Linked DNA regions of Homo sapiens. The protein of the gene in region 1 purifies or fractionates together with the protein of each later gene. This does not show direct contact. Each region holds a gene or a part of one and is shown on either strand. Other genes may lie near its edges.

What was found.
Region 2: the proteins of ACSS2 (region 1) and WARS1 fractionate together in Homo sapiens (co-fractionation; one large-scale study listed by BioGRID). This does not show direct contact.

The regions. Positions count from the first base shown.
Region 1 is NC_000020.11:34,882,895-34,886,718, forward strand, and holds part of ACSS2 (acetyl-coenzyme A synthetase, cytoplasmic), read left to right. Parts: coding exon 1-95; intron 96-3,824. UniProt on the Homo sapiens protein: Catalyzes the synthesis of acetyl-CoA from short-chain fatty acids. Acetate is the preferred substrate. Can also utilize propionate with a much lower affinity.
Region 2 is NC_000014.9:100,361,848-100,365,671, forward strand, and holds part of WARS1 (tryptophan--tRNA ligase, cytoplasmic), read right to left. Parts: intron 75-3,824; coding exon 1-74. UniProt on the Homo sapiens protein: Catalyzes the attachment of tryptophan to tRNA(Trp) in a two-step reaction: tryptophan is first activated by ATP to form Trp-AMP and then transferred to the acceptor end of the tRNA(Trp).

The DNA.
Region 1 (3,824 bases):
GAGTGGATGAAAGGAGCAACTACCAACATCTGCTACAATGTACTGGATCGAAATGTCCATGAGAAAAAGCTTGGAGATAAAGTTGCTTTTTACTGGTAAAAATATCTATCTTATACTTGGTGGCAGATAAAAACACTCATTTGATACTTACAACAACCCAGTAGAGTAAGCAAAGTGTCATCAACTTAATGCCTCAGGTGAGGAAAAATACCTCAAGGAAGCTACATGACTTCCTTCAGATCACATAACTAGTATGTGACAGAGCTGACATTCAAAGCCAAGTGTCCTGACTTCTAGTCTAGTGTTCTTGGCTTTGTAGTTGAAGAGGGAGAAAGGGCATTGGCAAATGGAAGAGAACAAGACTGAGTAGCTTTCTTCCTCATTCTTGCTTTGGAAGACAAATAGTATTGGGTTTTTCACCACCACTACTACCACTACCATTATCATTATCTTTTACAGAGCTGTGTGCCAGAAACTATGCTTAAGTGCTTAACAAATACTATCTCCTTTGATGCTTATAATAATTATGAAAGCACTATTTGTTTTCCTCATTTTACATAGGTGAAAACTGAAATTCTGAGAAGTCAAGTGACATATCTGAAGTGAAACAACTAGCTAGAAGCAAGGCTGAGATTCAAACCTAGGCAGTATAATTACAGAGCTTACACACAACCATGACACTCTATTATTCCTCTAATTCCTTACCTTGGCCTCTCAACAGGTTTGTAAAATAGGAATTCTTAGTTTCATTTTATAGGTGAACAAATGAAGCATTGAAGGGTTATGTAGTGAATAAGGTCATAGAGTGAATAAGTGGTAGAGCCAGGATTCAAATTCAAGTCTGCCTGACTCCTTGCTTGTACCACTAGGCCATGCAGCCTCCCCAGCAGGAAATTTCTAAGACTGCTTCTCCCAGGAATTTAGCTGTCTAGGAGATACTACTATACCGAATCCAAATAGGACTTAGAAATTCCAATAATTGGGGTGTTGCTTCTGCCACAATCTATGAGCACTCAGAGTTGATCTATTGTTTTTGTATTGTTTTGTTTTGTTTTGTTTTTTTGGAGACAGGATCTTGCTCTGTTGCCCAGCCTGGAGAGCAGCGGCATGATCTTGGCTTACTGCAACCTCTGCCCTGCCTCCCCTGCTCAAGCAATCCTGCCACCTCAGCCTCCTGAGTAGGTGGGACTACAGACATGCACCACCACGTTTGGCTAATTTTTGTATTTTGTATTTAGTATTTTTTGTAATGATGGGGTTTCACCATGTTGCCCAGGCTGTTCTCAAACTCCTGAACTCAAGCGATCCACCTGTCTTGGCCTCCCAAAGTGCTGGGATTAGTGTGAGCCACCATGTCTGGCCTGATTAATTATTTAAGCTAGCCAATAGGAGCAGCTTGGATGCTTCATGGGAGAGTTAAATTGAAACTCACTCAATATCTTTGCCCAGTTTGTGTGATATATTGAGAAGAGCCTTAACCTGAGAGACAAGAAATTTAGGTTCTCCTTTCAACTCTGCCATTAACATGTTATATAACCACAGACAAGGCATTTAACTAAGAGTCAGTTTCCTCTTCCATAAAATGGGGATAATAATTCTATCCTTGTTTTTCTCTCTAGATTGTTGTAAGAATCAAATGAGATAACGTTGTAAAAGCACTTATTTGTTTATTGGAAAACACTGTATAGGTGTGAGTGGTCTATTATTATACTACCATTGCTTAGTTGGGGGCCAGTTTGTCACTGAAATTCACTGTCCATTGTGTCTGTTGAGACTCTCTTTAGCTTCTGCTCTAGAGCTTTATGCTTGAGCTCCAGCCAACACTTGGGCTCATTTCCCAGGCTCTTTAAAGATCAGAAAACCTTTAAAGATCTTCAAAGGAGGCCGGGCATGGTGGCTCATGCCTGTAATCCCAGCACTTTGGGAGGCTGAGGCAAGAGGGTTGCTTGAGCTTAGGAGTTTGAGACCAGCCTGGGCAACACAGTGAGACCCCCATCTCTATTTCACAAAAAAGAAAGAAATAGGCTGGGCATGGTGCCTCATGCCTGTAATCCCAGCACTTTGGGAGACCAAGGCAGGTGGATTGCTTGAGCTCAAGAGTTCGAGACCAGCCTGGGCAACATGGCAAAACTCCCTCTCTACATAAAAGACAAAAATTAGCTGGGCATGGTGGTGCACGCCTGTAGTCCCACCTACTTGAAAGGCTGTGGTGGGAGGATTGCTTGAGCCCAGGAGGCGGAGGTTGCAGTGAGCACAGATCACACCACTGTACTCCAGCCTGGGCAACAGAGCAAGACCCTGTCTCAAAAAGTAATAGTAATAAAAATAAAATAAGAAAAATAAAAAGAGGAAAAAAAAGATCATAAAAGGAAATGCTTGTATCTGAATTTGTTCCCTGGTTTGAAAGAACTCAGGTGCCTAATGGAAAACAGAATACACAGGCCAGAGTTTTCAATCACTGGAGAGTTTTCCAGAATCCTGAGGCCCTTTCTTTCTAGAGACACCAGTTCCCCTACCACCCTTACCTGAACAGGCTCTGGAGAGCCTCTCTTTCCCCATCTGTAAAATGAGAGGAGTAGACTAGATCAGCATTTTCCAAAGAATGCTTCAGGAACTGCTAATTACTGGAGATATTAGTAGGGGGCTTCTTAATTCATAAAATGATTGAGTCTGAGAAACACTACATAATAAATTGCCTTTGTGTGAGATTCCCAATGTGTATTAGCATAGTAAAATCTCCAAGATGTCCTATATTAGAGATACCTGATTAATTTTGTTTAACATAGGATTTCCTGAATTTATTGAAGCCCCAAACACTTTTTGCCAGCATGCTATTGATATCACAAGAAGCAGTATTCCATGGAACACCCACTGGGGAAGCACTGGATTAAATAATCTCTAAATTTACTTCCAGTGCAAAATTCTGTAACTCAAAAACAAGACATCCTCACTCCATTTTTACATTGGTCACTCCCTCAACAAGAATTGTTAAAGATATTGGATACTCAGGGCTGCATTAGGCATTATGGATATGGGGGTAAAAAGGCAGGAGACAAGTACCATATAGGCAATTACTATTTAATTATTTTATGTTTATAGTAAAGCAAAAGCAAAATACAAATAAATTGCATTTTATTATAAGAAAGTAAAGTGCAAATATGCCGGATATGTGGTTACATCCCTTTGTTGCCTCTATATTTTTAAATGATATGCTTATACTGCTATTTTTCATCATTTTTAAAGAAAGTATTGATTTCTTACTACGATAGATAAGAATTTAGTTCTTATATACCTCTCTAACTTCCTTCTCTCTTCTTCTCAATATAATTATAGCTGTTTTCTAGTTAATTTAAAATCAGTTTACATAAGAATAGCATACTGTGGTTATATTTCCTTTTATGTACGGATTTTTATTTACTCTGAAGTTAATAATTGCTTACTGGGCTGGGTGCAGTGGCTTATACCTGTAATCCCAACACTTTGGGAAGCAGAGGCGGGCAGATCACCTGAGGTCAGGAGTTCTAGACAAGCCTGGCCAAAATAGTGAAACCTCATCTCTACTAAAAATACAAAAAAAAAATTAGCTGGGCATGGTAGTGCACACCTGCAGTCCCAGCTACTTGGGAGGCTGAGGCAGAAGAATCGCGTGAACCTGGGAGGCAGAGGTTGCAGTGAGCCAAGATCACACCACTGCCCTCCAGCCTGGGTGACAGAGCAAGACTCTGTCTCAAAAAACAATAAAAGTAATAATAATAATTGCTTACCGTTTTTCTTTTTGTACTATTTAAGCCTTTATCATATATTTAATATTTTCCAATCTCACT
Region 2 (3,824 bases), on another chromosome or scaffold:
TAATCCTCCCCCGCGGCAGCTTTGTAGCTCATTTTTAATGACACCAACATCTTTACTGCAGAATCAATTTCATCCTGAGAGAGGAAATAAAAGGGATGGCTAAAAGTATTACTAATAGCTGATATGTGCTGAATGCCTATTCTGTGGCAGGCACTGTGTTAAATGCTTTTACACGTGTTACCTTAGTTAGTGTCACAACCCTACAAGGCAGGTATTGTTGTCACTGTCCTTTTCCAGCTCAAGAATCTGAGACTCAGAGAGGTAGAGGAGCTTACCCATAGAATCACAGCAAGTCATTGGCTCGAAAACACTTCATTTTTATCTGTTATTCTAGTGCTACCATGAACACTTTGGGACAGTAGCAGTGACACAATATACACTGTCATTTATGACAAAGTTCATATGCTAAAGATTTCTCAAACACCACTGATGCCAGAGAACGTGTGTGACAAGCTCCTTTAATTGAGATTCCTGGAGTTCTGCATTGGAACTAGTTTTTACATACCACACAGGTTGAGATGAATATTTACGTTAACTTAACCAATGATGCCACTAAGGATAGTAAGAGCAACTAAAACAGATAAAAGCAAGGACAAAAAATGTAGGCTCTCAGGTTATAAATTAAGGAGGGATTCACTGGGAAATAGTTACATCATCACATTTTGGAGTCTTATCAAACTATCTTGAAAAAAAAAAAACAAAGGTAAAATGTACCCTTGGGTAGTCTGGAAATGTATTAAAGACTCTTTTGCAGGAGTCCATAGTGGCCACCCCTGGAAGCCTGGTGTTTAGAAAAGCAGGCCTAATTAAGCTGATTAGTCATGCTATGCCCTAAAGCTCTATTCTGGTAATTGGCCTTGCTGGATTAGATCACAAACAAAGAATATACACAGCCCAATTTGCTTACCAAGGGAAATACAAACATTTCCACTTACAGTTTATACAGAACATTCTTTCTTTTAAATCTCCTTAAATTCCTTTTACCATATACAGAATGTTCTATAAACACCAACCTCCATTCAGAGATAACTATTCCATCAGATATAGCACTTGGGCCATAAAGGACTGTGATTCTGGAGTAATCTGTGTTTCAAACTACAAAATTATCTGAGACTCATCATTAAAATGAGCCAGATTTGTGGAATCAGTAACCCAATGGATACGATTCATAGATGAGATGTTTGCCCAGGTTAGATAGTTAAGTATGTTCCACCCATCTCATTTCTGTAGTACCTAGGCTCAGTACTTGCAAAAAATAACAGTTTAGTACGTATAATCTATCCAATTATCTATGGGAAGGCTTACCTTGCTTTGAAGTACACTGCAGTCAATATCACTTAATAACTAGCTTTGTTGACATTTCATACTCTATCTGGTCTAATTCTGCTTGTAACTAGGAGGCTCTGCGAAAGTCAAACATTTAACCAATGTCCCTGCTCAAGGACCATCTGCATTTTGGAATAGCACCAAAATAAGACAAGCAGGCTTACCTTGTCTATTTTCTTATAATCAGTCTTAATCAGTGTCTGAACCAGGACACTGAAACAGGATTCAAAAGCTGATGTTAGCTGGGTGCAGTGGCTCACACCTGTAATCCCAGCACTTTGGGAGGCCAAGGCGGGCGGATCGCCTGAGCTCATAAGTTCGAGACCACCCTAGGCAACATGGCAAAACCCTGTCTCTACCAAAAATAGAAAAAATTAGCCAGGTGTGGTGGCACACACCTGTGTTCCTAGCTCATCGGGAGGCTGAAGTCAGAGGATTGCTTGAGCCAGGGAGGCAGAGGTTGCAGTGAGCCGAGATTGCACCACTGCACTCCAACCTGGGTGATGAAGTGAGATCCCCACCCCACAAAAAACCCAGAACATCAGTTTTTTTTAGACAGGGTCTCACTTCAGTCTCCTGAGTAGCTGGGACTGCAGGTGTGTGCCACCATGTCTGGCTAATTTTTAAATTTTTTGTAGAGACAGGGTCTCACTATATTATCCAGGCTGGTCCCAAACTCTTGGCCTGAAGCGATCCTCCTGCCTTGGCCTCCTAAGTGCTGGGATTATAGGCATGAGCCACGGAGCCTCGCCAAAAGCTGATGTTCAGAAAAAAAAGCCAGACACAAGACTGTATTACATACAGTTCAAACCCAGGTAGAGCTACCCCTGGTGGGAGGAGTCATGGCAGAGGCTGAGGCGCGTGAGGGTGGCTTCTAGGTGCTCTCTGCTTGCTGTTGATTTGGGTGCTGGTTACACAGGTGTGGTCATTTTGTGAAAATTCAGTGAGGTGCCTGCTTGTGCTTATGATCAGCATGTTTTTCTATATGAATGGTATATTTTGATTTTAGAAGTTACTTAAACAAAAAGGAGAAGAAGAAAAAGGCTCTGCTCTCTTTCTTAATACCTAAGACCTAGCATTGCTTCTTTAGTCCTGCTCAAACTATTTCCCCTCACAGCCCTCAGATGCTGACTTATTTCCCCCTAGGAAACTTGCCGCTTTAATGAGCTGCTGCTACTGAAGGATGTGGATCTTATTCTTTAGATACACTGGAGCAGAAAAGACCTTCAAGGTCCATGGCCTAGATAAATGGCAGGAGAAGAAAGAGCTCAAGGTGCCCTCTCTTAGAACTGGCACTCCCAATGTGGCTCACACTATTTTGCTAAAAGTTAATTTTTAAAATTTCCAAAACATCAAGTGCTTCTACTACCAAGACATTTCAGGGTCAGATACAAATGTACTTCTGAATTTTTCACCACTTAACTCTGGTCTCATTGTGCAACCTCTGATGTCTTCAACGTGTGCCAGCCAATTGCATTAGTCAAATAATACACTTGGAAGAGTTATTATAAAATGTATTAAGTTGACTAAAATAATGAACATAACTGCAGTCACTAAGAATTACTAACTAAAAACATTTACTAAATGTTATTCAAATTTAATATTAAATGGACAAAAATACCACTGTCAACTTCCCAAAATGATGGGCTTACATAACCCCACTGGGTCTTTTATTTATTTTATAATTTTGTTTTAAAACAACTTGGTTTAATCGTTTGAGGCCTACCTGGTGAGTAAATCTCTTTCTGTAAAAAAGTAACTTTTTTTTGACATTACTTTCTTTCAGTACTATTTATTTCATTTAAAATATGAGCTGGGTGCAGTGGCTTGCATCTATAATTCCAGCAACTTGGCAGGCTAAGGTGGGAGCCCAGGAGTTTGAGGGTGCACTGAGCTAGGATTGCACCACTGCACTCCAACGTGGAAAGAGCGAGACCCTGTCTCAAAAAATACACACACACACACACACACACACACACACACACACACAAATAATGATTTAAATCAGGGTCCCAAATAGTCAAAGTAAACTACTGGGGAATGTGAGATGGTTGACACAATCTGGTGACAAGCAAGGTGTTTGAAAAGATAACAGATAACAGGAGTTAAAAGTGTCGGAAGTCGGGCCGGGCGTGGTGGCTCACACCTGTCATCCCAGTACTTTGGGAGGCTGAGGCGGGCGGATCACCTGAGATCAGGAGTTCAAGATTAGCCTGGCCAACATGGCAAGACCCCCTCTCTACTAAAAATACAAAAATTAGCCGGGTGTGGTGGCGGGCGCCTGCAGTCCCAGCTACTTACGAGGCCAGGGCAGGAGAATCGCTCGAACTCAGGAGGCAGAGGTTGTAGTGAGCCAAGACTGTGCCAGTGCACTCCAGCCTGGGCGACAGAGTGAGACTCAGCCTCAAAAAAAAAAAAAAAAAAAAAGTGATGGAAGTCATGGAGAAGCCGGAGTGGAGTCACCCCAGAAGGAAATGAAATGCTTATGTTCTAGTTAA